Linked DNA regions of Homo sapiens. The protein of the gene in region 1 purifies or fractionates together with the protein of each later gene. This does not show direct contact. Each region holds a gene or a part of one and is shown in the gene's direction. Other genes may lie near its edges.

The links.
Region 2: the proteins of REEP5 (region 1) and MFN2 purify together in Homo sapiens (affinity purification with mass spectrometry; 2 studies listed by BioGRID and IntAct, with this or other methods). This does not show direct contact.
Region 3: the proteins of REEP5 (region 1) and SCAMP2 purify together in Homo sapiens (affinity purification with mass spectrometry; 2 studies listed by BioGRID and IntAct, with this or other methods). This does not show direct contact.
Region 4: the proteins of REEP5 (region 1) and RNFT1 purify together in Homo sapiens (affinity purification with mass spectrometry; 2 studies listed by BioGRID and IntAct, with this or other methods). This does not show direct contact.

The regions. Positions count from the first base shown.
Region 1 is NC_000005.10:112,915,728-112,919,227, reverse strand, and holds part of REEP5 (receptor expression-enhancing protein 5), read left to right. Parts: intron 1-3,500. UniProt on the Homo sapiens protein: Plays an essential role in heart function and development by regulating the organization and function of the sarcoplasmic reticulum in cardiomyocytes.
Region 2 is NC_000001.11:11,983,444-11,986,943, forward strand, and holds part of MFN2 (mitofusin-2), read left to right. Parts: intron 1-3,500. UniProt on the Homo sapiens protein: Mitochondrial outer membrane GTPase that mediates mitochondrial clustering and fusion. Mitochondria are highly dynamic organelles, and their morphology is determined by the equilibrium between mitochondrial fusion and fission events.
Region 3 is NC_000015.10:74,849,366-74,852,865, reverse strand, and holds part of SCAMP2 (secretory carrier-associated membrane protein 2), read left to right. Parts: intron 1-679; coding exon 680-797; intron 798-1,384; coding exon 1,385-1,513; intron 1,514-2,192; coding exon 2,193-2,352; intron 2,353-3,500. UniProt on the Homo sapiens protein: Functions in post-Golgi recycling pathways. Acts as a recycling carrier to the cell surface.
Region 4 is NC_000017.11:59,958,241-59,961,740, reverse strand, and holds part of RNFT1 (E3 ubiquitin-protein ligase RNFT1), read left to right. Parts: intron 1-1,572; coding exon 1,573-1,673; intron 1,674-3,296; coding exon 3,297-3,450; intron 3,451-3,500. UniProt on the Homo sapiens protein: E3 ubiquitin-protein ligase that acts in the endoplasmic reticulum (ER)-associated degradation (ERAD) pathway, which targets misfolded proteins that accumulate in the endoplasmic reticulum (ER) for ubiquitination and subsequent proteasome-mediated degradation.

The DNA.
Region 1 (3,500 bases):
ATTTAATACTAATACATTGGGTATTAGGTCCCAACATATGGATGTTGGGGGAACACAACATTCAGACCATAGCAGTCACCTTCATTTTAACTATTCTCCATACCTCTTGTAACTCTTATGCTCCCTAGCCAGAGTTATTTTTTAAAATACAGGTTCATCTATTTAGCAAAAATCAAATGCCAGTCACATGTGTGGCACTGTGGTAGCACTTTAGATATGGCAAGAAATAAGGTAGTCATACTCTCTGTCCTTGTTGAATGAGCAGTCTACCCAGGCAAGAAATAGGCAAAGTAGTGACCGTGTGGTAAGCCCTCTAAAGTAAATAAACAGTTCTGGTAGAGAAGACCTGAGGAATGAGAAGGGGCCAGCCAAGAGCAGAGCCAGGGAGAGGGAGAAGAGTGTGTCAGGCCCTGAGGCAGCACACAGCTTAGCTCTGTGTGAGCAAAGAGTGGTGGGGGAGGCACCAGAGAGGTGCAGGTGCCAGCAGGTAGGGTCAGTGGTAGAAGTGTGCATTTCATTCCAGATGGTGGTAGGGAGTTTGCATTTTCTGATTGCCTTGGATGGGTTTTAAATAGGGGGTGACATGATACGATTTATATTTTAAGGTCACTTTGGCTGCTGTGACCTCTGTAAGGAGTTCGCGATCTTGCCAAACTATTGCCAGTAATTTACTTCCTTCCTTTCTCACCTTTCAGCCTTTCTCTTGCTGTTTCCTCTCCTTGGGCCATCACAAGAAGGGGAGTAGTGTCAGTATTGGGTCAAGAGACTGCAGGATGCAAAGATGAAATTGGGAAAAGCTCACTTGGCTTCCTAGCTTTTCTCCCTTTGGACTCCCTTTGGAAGTCTGTGAGTGAAGCTCAGGTGCACCTGGCTCCTGGTCAGGGTCTGCTGCACGTTGGAGCATGTAGATGGTTGAAGACTTGCCCAGTGCTCACTGGGGAGCAACCAGTACCTTATTGTATACCCCTCTTCCTACTGGTTGTTCTTTCCGTGTGCATAATTTCCCTTTGAGCTCTTTGAGAACAGGGTCTTTCATCTCTGACTTCTAGTTTCTAGAATTTTTGGCCATCTTATATAGGCAATTCGGAATCTAATTCCAGCCTTCCTTTCATCAAGAACTGTTGACATAATTACCTTAATCTCCTTACTTCCCTCTTTTACTGATAACAGGAGGCAGACTACTGGAAATGTTTATTATAAAGATAGACCTCCCCCCATTGCTAAGATATAATTTAGATACTTATAAATTGTACACTTTTAAAGTATGCAGTTCAGTGGCTAGTATGTTCAGAGTTGTGTAACCATCACCACTGTCTAATTCCAAAACATTTTTATCACCCCAAAGGGAAACCATCACCAATCACTCCCTATTCCTCCTACCCAGCCCCTGGAAACCACTAATCTGCATTCTGTTTCTATGAGTTTGCCTATTCTGAGCATTTCATGTAGACGGAATCATACAATATATGGCCTTTAATGTCTGGTGCAGCCCTGCTTCTAATGGGATTGCACAAATAAGAGTCCTCTGGAGGGTGTATGCTGTGCTGCACCCTCATATGTGAGTAAGTCCTCCTGGTGCAGTCCCTCCAGGGTGGGCGCTAGTGAGCCAGGGCCCTAGTCCTGTACTTGCTCCTTTGTACAAATGGAATTGTGAGGCAAACTCAGACTTTATCTTCTATTTAAGGAAAGGGGAAGGTTTGCTTTCTGTCCTACCCAGTAACTTTTTTGCTTAAAATTCTATAAAAATGTCTATTACTTTTCCTCTTTTTATTTCATATTTTCCTTAAGACTTGGGCTGCCACCTTCCTGGGACTATCAGAGTTGGGCCTTAAAGATCAAACAGGTAGTCCAGTTCCTTTAGTTTTAAAATGACAATTCAGGGACAGAGAAAGGTGGAGTGTGTTTCCCAAGGTCACACAGAGGCCAGGCTTGGTCTGGAACTACACAGGAATGTAAAGCACATTTAGGCATATTTTAGTGCCAATGTTAGAAAGATTAAATATGTTTAGGGGGCGGGGCATGATGGCCCACATCTGTAATCTCAGCACTTTGGGGTGCTGAGGCAGAGGGATTGCTTGAGGCCAGGAGTTCAAGACGAGAGTCCAGCACTATATATTTAATCTTTAACAACACTTTTGAAATCTCATACCCAGTTCAGTAATGTGTCATTTTAGTTTCTGTGTGTCCTCACAAGCCCATTTTAAACTTTTGCTGCTGGTGTAAAGAGTTATATTGCATTTAGCTCTTTGTATGACTCCTGAAATCTGTGTAGCATTTTATTTAACAGATATGTACATATCTCTGTCTAAGTGCTTTGCAAATATAGCTCATTTAATCCTCAGAACAACCCTATTATGTAAGTGCTATGATTATTCCCATTTTTACAGATGAGGAAACACAGAAAGAGAATTTGAATAACTTGATCAAGGTCTCACAACTAGCAGATGATGAAACTGGTATTTAAATCCAAAGAATCTGGCTCCAAATTTCATGCTTTTAATGATTACGTTATGCTACCTCCCTTGTGGCTCTTTGAATGTCCCACAAACACAACATCACCTTATGTAGAGATGAAAATTAAAAAATGTAGGCCTTTCAAAAAAACAGTTGACCCTGTCAATACATTACCTTTGTGCAGTGTATTTTTCCTCTCAAATAAGGTACTGTCATCCCAAATCATATATCTGCACACATAGGCATTGACTGTGTTTTGTAGACATTAGTTAGAATATGTTACTAACAACTTTTCTTATCTGTTATGTAGCTTTGACTTATGACAGCAGAGGCTTGCTCTGTTTTACTAGCACAAGGCCACCTGAAAATGGCACACTGAACTGGATTTCCTAAGGGGATGCAGCGTTGCCTTTAGTTCTGTTTCAAGAGACAAGTATCTCAAGGGAAGATGTTTGGGGATGACCCCTATCGAGGTCAGATCAGAAAGGGATGGCAAGAAGGTTAATTTGAAGAAAAAAAACAATGAAAATATCTACAAGAGTTGTAACACAGTTAACCACAAGTAAAAGCAACAGCATCCTCTTAGCTAAATGATGCTCAGCACACAAAGGGAGGACACATTCTGGGGAACACAAGTTAAAAAGAGTTGCAGTCTACTTGCTTAAGGTGTGCATTGACAGACTCCTAAAGAGGTTTATTACCCAGAGGAGACTTTGAGAAAGTCACCGTGGTGTGAATGACAGTTGTGAACAGACACTTTCTGTTTTGCAGCTAGTCACTGGAAGCAGAGCTGTTTCCTTAACAGTACTGGAGGATGTGTATTTGTAGTTCTCTTCTTGGACTCATTAGTAGGGGGTGTATTTGTTTTCTTGTGGGTTTTTTTTTTTTTTTTTAAATTGTAATTATGTTTTGTTCTTTTTTACTCATGAGAACTTCAGAGCAGATGTATTTTCTACTGAGCTGCCTATGTTCCCATTACACTAGCTTTTCTCTCTGGATCTATATGTGCTTTGTTAAAGTGTTGAAGAGCAGAGCAATGCATGCCT
Region 2 (3,500 bases), on another chromosome or scaffold:
TCTGTGGACCACGCTTTGGGAAGTGCTGCCAGAAACTATCCAAAACAGTAATCTCCAGAGCACTTATGAGGCAGTCACAGCTTGAAGTGTGACGCTTAGTGTGTCACTGATGTTGGAGCTGGGCTCTCAGGCTATGCTTGCAGGATGGTCCCCACGTGCCTGTGGCAAGGTCTGTGGTGAAGCAGAGATTATCAAGGCTTTCCAGAGGCAGAGGAGGAACCCAGCTGCCCTGCATCACCCTGGAGGAGTAGGGAGTCAGCAGTCAAAGCCTTGAGATAATTGGGGAACACAGGATGTGATAAAAACCAGAAGTCTGTGATGTTGTTTGTTCTCTATGAGGCATCAGAGGAGGCTTCATGGAGCGGGTGACACTTGAGTTGGGTCTAGAAGGACAGTAGGAGTATGCCAAATGGGTGGAAAAGGAAGGAGGATTCCAGGCAGAAAGCAGCTCATGCAACACAGATGTGGAATCTCAGCTTGCAAGTTAGCAGAGCCAGATAAATCAGGCAGAGTTTGGAGGGGTTGACAGTAGGTTTTACGCCAGGGGTTTGGATGCAGCTGCAGGCTGGGTATTAGTGAGAGCAGGGAGGCTCCTGGACCGGCTGAACTCCCAGCAGACCTTGTAACCTGGAGCTCCCAAGCTTCTACTGGTGTACACGCTGTCGAGTCTTGCAGTTAGTGAGCACTAATGCTTTTGGTTTTATATCTCCTGGGCTTGCAAACATTGACCAGAACTTAAAAGCACCTGCTTCTGATGGCAGGGAACTTGCTTCCTGCAGCAAGTCACTTCTGGAGTGGGGTATCGCTGATCCTTCCCCAGCTGACCTGTTTATTTGATCTCCGTGATAGCGGGTAAGGGAGTGGTGTGTGTGGTGTGAGTTGGCGGAGTTGCCTCTGCCCTCCCTGAAGGCTGGGTGTTCATGGAGAGAGTCTTGTGATCTTGCTGGTAGAGTTTGTTGTTATTGTTTTATAACATGTAAAGCTGCCTTTAGCTCTTACTGTAGTGAAGCATGTTGCTTGCGTCATCAACTTTAGTCTTCTCACAGTTTAGATGGTATTGTGGTATTAGGATATTGGTTTTCATCCACGGATCCAGGCTCATAACTCCTATCCACAGCCCTTGTTATGGTTTTTTGATATAATGTTAGATGTGTTAGGCCTCAGGGGCAGGCCTCTGACCTTCTGCTCTCCTTCCACCCTAATCTTTCCCCACCTGATTGTGGGCCTTAAAACCCTCCCCTGAGAGGGGTGGACCCTGTATCCTGGGGGAAGGAATGCTGATGTCATGAAGCTTCCATAAAAATCCAAGAGGACAGAGTTCAGGGAGCTTGTGGATAGCTGAACACACGGAGGTTCCTAGAGAGAGGCCTGCTCAGGGAGGGCACAGAAACTACACGCCTCTTCCCCCATACCTCGCCCTAAGCGTCTCCTTATCTGTATCCTTTGCGATATCCCTCATAATAACCTGGTAAACGTAAGTAAGTGTTTCCCTGGGCTAGGTAGGCTGCTCCATCAAATTAATTGAACTCAAAGAGGGGGTCATGGGAACCCCAGCCTGAAGCCAGTCGGTGAGAAATTCTGGAGGCCCAGACTTGCAACTGGTATGTTTGAGGGGTGGTGGTGGAGAGGCGGGGCAGTCCTGGGGACTGAGCCCTCAACCTGTGGGATCTGACACTCTCTCCAGGTAGACAGCATGGGAACTGAATGAGAGGATACCCAGCTGCTGTCCGCTGGTTGGTGTGTGGGGAAGAAACCCCCTCACATTTGGTCACAGAAGTCTCTTGTGTTGATGATTATGGTGTGAGAGTAGAGAAAAAAGATAATTTGAGACAGTTTCTCTCTCCAGTAGGTGTCTTGTTTGTTGTACACATGAAGAAACCAAGGTTCTGTGATGAAATAACTTGCTTAAGTTTAAGCAGCCCAGAAATAATGTAGTCACAATTTGAACCCAGCTCTGCCTGATTACAAAACCTGTCATAGGTAGTGCTATATCATGCCCCATCCTTGATCCCTTTTTTTTTTTTTTTTTTTTTTTTTTTAAAGAGAGAGACTTCGCTCTGTCACCCAGGCTGGAGTACAGTGGCGAGATCTTGGCTCACTGCAAATTCTACCTCCCAGGTTCAAGTGATTCTCCTGCCTTGGCCTCTGGAGTAGCTGGGACTACAGGCATGCGCCACCACACCCAGCTAATTTTTTGTATTTTTCATAGAGACGGGGTTTCACCATGTTGGCTAGACTGGTCTTGAACTCCTGACCTCAGGTGAGCTGCCTGCCTCGGCCTCCCAAAGTGCTGGGATTACAGGCATGAGCCACCGTGCCTGACCCCTGATCCCTTTTCTATTCCTTTTGGATGGCTTTCCTCTTGTGCCTGCCACATCCCCTCTTTCTCGAACAGTCTGATCTGCCAGGCCATGGCAAGCCTCATTTCAGCGCACTCTCCTTTGCTGCTTTGGAAGAGTGAGAGTAGCATTTTCTTTGCAGTTTCCTTTCTCAGAGCTGTACTGTCTTTAAGCCCTGGACATATGGCTTCCATGCTGAGAAAACATCTCTCATAGCTGTGGCGTCATGCTGAGGAGGAATGTAGAAACGGAAGTGGGGTCACTTCCTTCCCTTGTCTCCAGAGGAATCATTAACATTGCACAAGAACTTGTTGGTTTGGGCACACATGTGGGTCCCTATCCCGCTTTGGGTCGGTCTGTCTTCTGCCCACTCTTTGGGATGGTTAGTTACTAAAAGTCCGTTTTGGCATTTGGTCTTCATGTACCTCTTCCGGGTGTTCTTTCTGCTTTTCAGGACCTTGTGCAACATACTTTGGCCCCATTTGGAAGTTTTTCACGTGTGCTTGCTGGGGAGCAACACCTCATTTCCAATCTAGAGAGAGTGAGCTTACTGCTGGGTGGAGAACTGAGCAGTAAGATTAGGGTGGCTGGGGAGGCAGTGACAGACCCAGGCACAGTCAGCTGTGCACACACCCCCTCATCCAGGAGGGCCTTTGCCCTTTGACTTCCTGGGATTGGTGGGCTCTGCTCAAGAAGTAGCTTTCGCCGTGGTGGGAACTCTGAGGGACCTGGCAGGGGTCCACTTTTGGGGTCGGAATTCCCAGTCTTACCCTGGGCACTCCTTCTGGTGTGTACGCCTCTTTTTGATCTTTTTTTTTTTTTTTTTGAGATGGAGTCTTGCTCTATTGCTCAGGCTGGAGTGCAATGGCGCGATCTTAGCTCACTGCAACTTCCAGCTCCCAGGTTCAAGCAATTCTCGTGCCTCAGCCTCCCGAGTAGCTGGGATTACAGGTGCCTGCCACCATGCCTGGCTAATTTTTGTATTTTTAGCAGAGAAGGGGTTTCACCATGTTGGCCAGGCTGGTCTCAAGTGATCCACCCGCCTGGGCCTCCCAAAGTGCAGGGATTATAGGTGTGAGCCACCATGCCCAGCCTCTTTTGACCTTTGACCAAAGACCTCTAGGACTTTGGAGTCAAGTCTCATGACCTCTAAAATGTTGT
Region 3 (3,500 bases), on another chromosome or scaffold:
ACTCAGAGGCTCTACCCCGCCTGGAGAGGAGATAAGTGTGGACTCTGCATGCCACTAAAGCCAGGCAGGGCAGGGCCACACCTAAGGGGCTGTCCTGGGGTGTAGCCAATTGCAGTTTAGGGGGACCTCAGGAGGCAGCTCCTGGGGGCAGGCCATGGGGCAGGGTGCTTGTACAGATCCTGAGGCTCAGGCACACGCCATCTGCCTTCACGTGTCTCCCCTTTCCACTCACTGTTAGCAGGCTTGCACTGTTTTCCTTCTCACACATCCACCAGGCTCTTCAAATGAGGCTTGGGTCTGTGGGTTTCTTATTATAGTTTAGTTTCTTGTGAGGTCTTTTTCCCAAAGGTCACAATCACTGAGCGCTGCCTTGACCCAGTATGGGGAAGAGGTGGAGAAGCCAATGGGGGTAGTTTTCCCAACTCAAGCTTAGGGATGAGGGGAGAGGACAGCTTAGTCATGGCCAAGGGGTCAGGAAGGTGTGGGGGCAGTGGAAGACAGGTTGGCCTCTCTAAGGTGGTCTCTGGTACCTAAGACACTCTGTGGGGCGGGGACTGCTTCTGGGACTCCTTGATGGCTGTCCCTGCCTGGGGCAAGGCCTCTCTGCCTGCCTACCCAGGCTGACACTGTTTCTGTTTGTTGTGTCTGGCTGTCCCTGTACCTCCCCTGTTCTCTCCAGGCCGTGGTGTCTGCAGCCCAGGCAGGCCTGCTCCGGCAGCAGGAAGAACTGGACAGGAAAGCTGCCGAGCTGGAACGCAAGGAGCGGGAGCTGCAGAACACTGTAGCCAACTTGCATGGTAAGGGAGGCTGCTGGGGCCTGGGGCTGCCCTGCCTGGCATAGAAGAGTGTCCTGAAACCTGTGCGGAGGGCCTCCCAGCATTCACCCTGAGCTGCCTTAGAGTTTTGTGGGGCTCTTCTCATCACAGGATGCTGGTCCTGGGAAGAGCAGTAAGTTGCAAGTCAGGAGACCTGCAGTGTAGTTGTAATGGCTGTAGATTACTTCTGCACTCCTTCCTAGCTCTCAAATTCCTTGATTCTTTGATAGCATAGGGGCTTTGGTCCCACAATTCCTTGCTAATGATGATGAACTGAGTTCTCACACTTATGGGCTGCTTGTTAATAAAAATAATCACTTAGGCCATTTAGCTGTCTGTATTTCCCAGTGCATTTGGGGTCTTTTATCTCCATGTGAGCTTGTTGGTATCTCTTTGGGTTCCATTATCCTGTTCTGTCCCACTCCATGCTCCATGCAGACTCCAAGCCCCGCTTGCTGGAGCCCCTCTGGGAACCCTGGTTTGGCCCATACACTATGCTGGCGTGCATGCACCTTGATGCCCCTTCTGAGGCTGGGCCCTTACCTCGTCACTCTTTTTGCCCTACCCAGTGAGACAGAACAACTGGCCCCCTCTGCCCTCGTGGTGCCCTGTGAAGCCCTGCTTCTATCAGGATTTCTCCACAGAGATCCCTGCCGACTACCAGCGGATATGCAAGATGCTCTACTATCTGTGGATGTGTGAGTCCCACTCCTGCCTTCCAAGCGCAAGGGCGAATTGGGTGTGACTTGAGAGCCCCATCTTGGTCCTGGCTGCTCCTCCCTGGTATACAGGCTTTCAGCAGACTCCAGCCTTCCTCAGTGCCTGGGCTGGGTTGGGGAGATGCCTCTGCCCACAGGCTGCCCCCTGTCTGGAAACCTCCTTGAAAGGGGCAGTCCAGACCACCGATCAGGGAGGGTGGGACTAACTAGAGGCTTCCAAGTTCCTTCAGAGCTCACTGCACTAAAAGGCCCTCCTTAGGTGAAGGCCTTCCCTGCCCACAGGCCTGTGAACTCTGAGGGGTGAGGAAGGAGACTCCCCCTGCAGCTCCATCAGGGGCCATCCAGGGCCAGGGAAAAGCATTGCTAAGAGAAAGACTTCCTTCCCCAAGGACCAGCCCTGGGTCTGCATCCTCCCTCCACACCCCTCAGATACCCGGGCTGTCCCATCACCTCTCAGGAACGTAGTTTGATCCCTGGTTTTGAGGTCCCAGAAAACCAGGATATGGGAACTATCCCTGCCTAGGTACAGAGCGGGCTCCTCTGTTTCAGCAGCTGCCTTCGCAGCATGAACCTCACCTCTCCTAGGGAGTGGCTGCCACATTGGAGCCCCTCAGCCACTGTGGCACAAGTCATAACTCTGTCCTGTCCCCTTCCCCAGTGCATTCAGTGACTCTGTTTCTGAACCTGCTTGCCTGCCTGGCCTGGTTCTCGGGCAACAGCTCCAAGGGAGTGGACTTTGGCCTCTCCATCCTGTGGTTTCTGATCTTCACTCCCTGTGCCTTCCTTTGTTGGTACCGACCCATCTATAAGGCCTTTAGGTGAGTGAGGCCGGGGCAAGGGGTGAGACTTTATGGCTGGCATCCCAGGTAGCAGGCTAAGGGCTATAGGCCCTGGGACCCCATCTGAGTCTTAGAGCAGAATAGAATGTAGGGAAATCCACTTTCCCTACATTCTGTTCCTCTGTTCCCACCCAGAGCAGAGATTGGGGGCCCCGTTCCTCAGTTTCTGTACCTGAGGTCTGCTCTGGGCCCTGTCCTTGGACCAGGCACAGGAGACCTAGAGAAGGGACCTCCCATCCCACTGCTCCCAGTCTGGCTGATGCCGTTACTGGGAAGAGGGAGGGGACGCTCTTTGGGAACTCCCTTCTGAGGCTCTAAGGTGTGCTTCTCTGGTAGTATCAGATGAGTGCTCTCCAGGGCTCTTTCTCCATGACTATTGATGCTTCCCAATAAAGACTGCCAACACCTAAGCTAGATACTGGGAACATAGCTGGATACACCTTACAGACCCCCAGGGGTTCTGGAATTGTACCTCAGGGTTTATGCTTTCAGGGCTGGGAGCCCAGCAGGCCCTGGGAAGAGGGATTAGGGTAGTGGCTGAACCATCCCTGTACCACTGGAGGCCCTGAACCCTCACTGTGATCTAGCCCTCAAGGACACAGAGATGGAAGTCCTCAGCTCGTGAGAGAGTTTTGTCTGGTGTCCCCTGTTTCCCAAATATTTTTTTCTTCCAGTCAGATGTACAGGTTTTGTTTTTTTCTCATTGTTCTTTGTTACCACGTATCCTCAAGTTCTATTGTTTTTGTTTTGAGAGGGAGTCTCGCTCTGTCACCCAGGCTGGAGTGCAATGATGCGATCTCGGCTCACTGCAACCTCCTCCTCCTGGGTTCAAATGATTCTCCTGCCTCAGCCTCCGGAGTAGCTGGGCTTACAGGCACACACAATCACACCTGGCTAATTTTTGTATTTTTAGTAGCGATGGGGTTTCCCCATGTTGGCCAGGCTGGTCTTGAACTTGTGACCTCAAGTGATCCACCTGTCTCGGCCTCCCAAAGTGCTGGGATTACGAGTGTGAACCACCGTGCCCAGCCTGTTTTGTTTTTTTGAGACAGAATCTCAGTCTGTTACCCAGGCTGGAGTGCAATGGCGCAGTCTCGGCTCACTGCAACCTCCGCCTCCCAGGTTCA
Region 4 (3,500 bases), on another chromosome or scaffold:
GCTGGGCGTGGTGGCGCTTGCCTGTAGTCCCAGCTACTTGGGAGGCTGAGGCAGGAGAATTGCTTGAACCCGGGAGGCAGAGGTTGCAGTGAGCCAAGATTGTGCCACTGCACTCCAGCCTGGCGACAGAGTGAGACTCCATCTCAAAAAAAAAAAGAGAGAAAATGAAACCCAAGGAATTTTTCCATAACATAAGTTACACGAGCCCGTCATATAAATCATTGGGAAAAAGAGGATGAGTTTCTAAAATTTCACCTTAAGGCAACTTTAAATGGCTATGTCTGTGTAAAGTATCATGCATTCTGACCTGGAAATTTATAGTTAAACCTATCAAACTAGAAAAATCTTAATGATTTAAAATTAGTAAAACTTCATTAAACTTGACTTTAAAAGTGAGATTACAGGCAAGGCACAGTGGCTCATGCCTGTAATCTCAGCACTTTGGGAGGCTGAGATGGGCAGATTGCTTGAGCCCAGGAATTGAAGACGAGCCTGGGCAACATGGCAAAACCCCATCTCTACAAAAAATACAAAAAATTAGCTGGGCGTGGTGGCACGTGCCTGTAATCTCTGCTATCTGGGAGGCTGAGGTGGGAGGATTGCCTGACCCCAGGTGGTTGGGGCTGCAGTGAGTTGTGATCATGCCACTGCACTCCAGTCTGGGTGAAAGAGTGAGACCCAGTCTCAAAAAAGTAAAAAAAAAAAAAGGGAGATTACAACTACTTGGGAGGCTGAGTTGGGAAGAATGCTTGAGCCTAGGAATTCTGAGCAATGTGTCGAGACCCCATATATTAAAAAAGTGAGATTAAAACATTAATTTATTAAATTCTTATAATCTGAGAATTTAAAAAATATAAACCTTGACAAGTGAGTCAAGGTTAAAATGCATTTTGAAATTTTCTTTTGTGGGTGGGTCCATTTTTTTTCTGAGACGGTGTTTTGCTCTGTCACCCGGGCTGGAGTGCAGTGGCGTGATCTTGGCTCACTGCAACCTCTGCCTCCTGGGTTCAAGTGATTCTCGTGCCTCAGCCTCCTGAGTAGCTGGGATTACAGGCACGTGCCACGGCGCCTGGCTAACTTTTGTACTTTTTTTAGTAGAGACAGGTTTCACCATGTTGGGCAGGCTGGTCACAAACTCCTGACCTCAAGCGATCCGCCGACCTTGGCCTCCCAAAGTGCTGGGATTACAAGTGTGAGCCACTGCCCCCGTCCTGGGTGGGTCCTTTATGTCAGCTTGTAGAAGACCTGGCTTCTTTTTTTTTTTTTTAATTTAATTTAATTTTCTTTTTTTTTTTTTTTTTTTGAGAGAAGACTTGGCTTCTTTGAAACATAGGTAATGTTTTTCATACAGTGAAGAAACTTGTATTTTAAACATTTGTTTAATATAAGAGTTCTGTTTGGTCACTAAAGTAGTATAAAACAGTAACTGTGATGATTATGTACAGTTTAACATATTCTATATTAAGATTTAGAAAAATATTCTAAGTTAATAGTCATTAAAGTAAAACAGTTTAATGATATTTAAAATTCTGGCAAAATCAAAGTAACATTATAAAATTGTTTATCTTTCAGGAAAGGTCCTCAAAGATTCAGTGTGCTTGGTTACTGGTATTCTTAGCAGGATCTTCTGTTCTTTTATATTACACCTTTCATTCTCAGTCACTTTATTACAGGTAATTAGAGGTCCAAATACACAATTACATTTTTAATGTAATCATATATTTCATAGCACTTTGTATCTTACTTCACATAGTACTTATTGTATTCAGTTCAGTTCAGTTTTTAACTTTCTCCTTTCATAAGCGAGAGCTTTTTTTTTTTTTTTCTTTTTGAGACGGAGTCTCACTCTCTCGCCCAGCCTGGAGTGCAGTGTCTTGATCTTGGCTCACTGCAACCTTTGCCTCTCAGGTTCAAGCAATTCTCCCGTCTAAGCCTCCTGAGTAGCTGGGATTACAGGCACACGCCACCACGCCTGGCAAATTTTTGTATTTTTAATAGAGACGGAGTTTCACCATGTTGGTCAGACCTCCTGACCTCGTGATCTGCCTGCCTCCACCTCCTAAAGTGCTGGGATTACAGGTGTGAGCCACTGCACCCAGCCTCATAAGTGAGAGCTTTAAGTGACTTACTCAGATTTTGTATCCCCAGTGCCTTGGCACATAACAGATGCTCAATAAATATTTAATTTTTTGATACCTGAGTTTTTGTTTACATATTTCGTATTTTTAAAGTACCATTAGGTTGTTATTATTGGTCGTTGTTTCTGAAAGTAAGAACACTTACTAAATGACAGTAGCTGATAAGTCTCCATGTCAAATGGGAGTATTCTGAATTTTCAGCTTTTATTAGAATATTAGAAGACCTGGTTTCACTGGAGTTGGAGAGATGGGCAAATCTGGGATATAGTTTGGAGGTGGAGCCAGTATCCCTCAGATGGACTGGATTGGATAGGTGGGTGGAGAGAAGCAAGAATGACCTCTGGGTTTTTAGTCTAAGCAGCTGGCTGGATGGTGGTGTCATTTCATTGGGTTGAGGAAGGAACTGATTTTGAGGAGAAAAATCAATAATTTTGTTTTGAACATGTTAAGTTTGAGAGGCTAAGTAGAATTGATAAGAAAGTGGTTCCAAATATATGTCATGAACTCAGGGTAGAGGTTAAGGCAATAAATTTTGGTATCAGGAGCATATGGTTGATATTTAAAAACCACAGGACTGGACAAAACTAACCCAGGAAAGAGAGTGTAGATAGAGAGCCCAGTACTGGACATGACCACAATTAGAAGAGAAACAGCAAAGGAGACTAAGAAGAAACCAGCAGTGAAATATGAGAAATAGAAAAGTGTTGTGTTAAAAGTCTAGAAAGAAAATTATTCAGGGAGGGAAGATGGAAAAAGAGAGTGACCTTGAAATTTAGCCATACAGAGGGAGTTGATGATCTTGACAAGCAATTCATTGAAAGGAAGAGATGGAATCCTGATTGGAATTGGTTAAGAAAAACACAGCAGATGTCTGGTATTGATGAGTTTTTTTCATTTACAGGCTAGAAAGGTGTCAACTATGACAAACCGTGAAGACTTTTTCCTTATTCTATGAAGGGAAGATCTAAAATCCAAACAGGTTTAAAAAGTCTCTTTAAGCAAAATGATCCTCCATTCCATTATTGTGAACTCTGACATCCTGCCAAACTCATATTTTTTACATATCAAAATAAAATATTTGTAGCAAATTAAAACCCTTTATTAATACTTTATCTTTGTATGTTGCTCTGATAAATTTTGATGTTTTTCTTTTGGTAGCTTAATTTTTTTAAATCCTACTTTGGACCATTTGAGCTTCTGGGAAGTATTTTGGATTGTTGGAATTACAGACTTCATTCTGAAATTCTTTTTCATGGGCTTAAAATGCCTTATTTTATTGGTGCCTTCTTTCATCATGCCTTTTAAATCTAAGGTAAGAAACTCACTTATGCTTTATTGGAGTGATGTTATCGAATCACATTA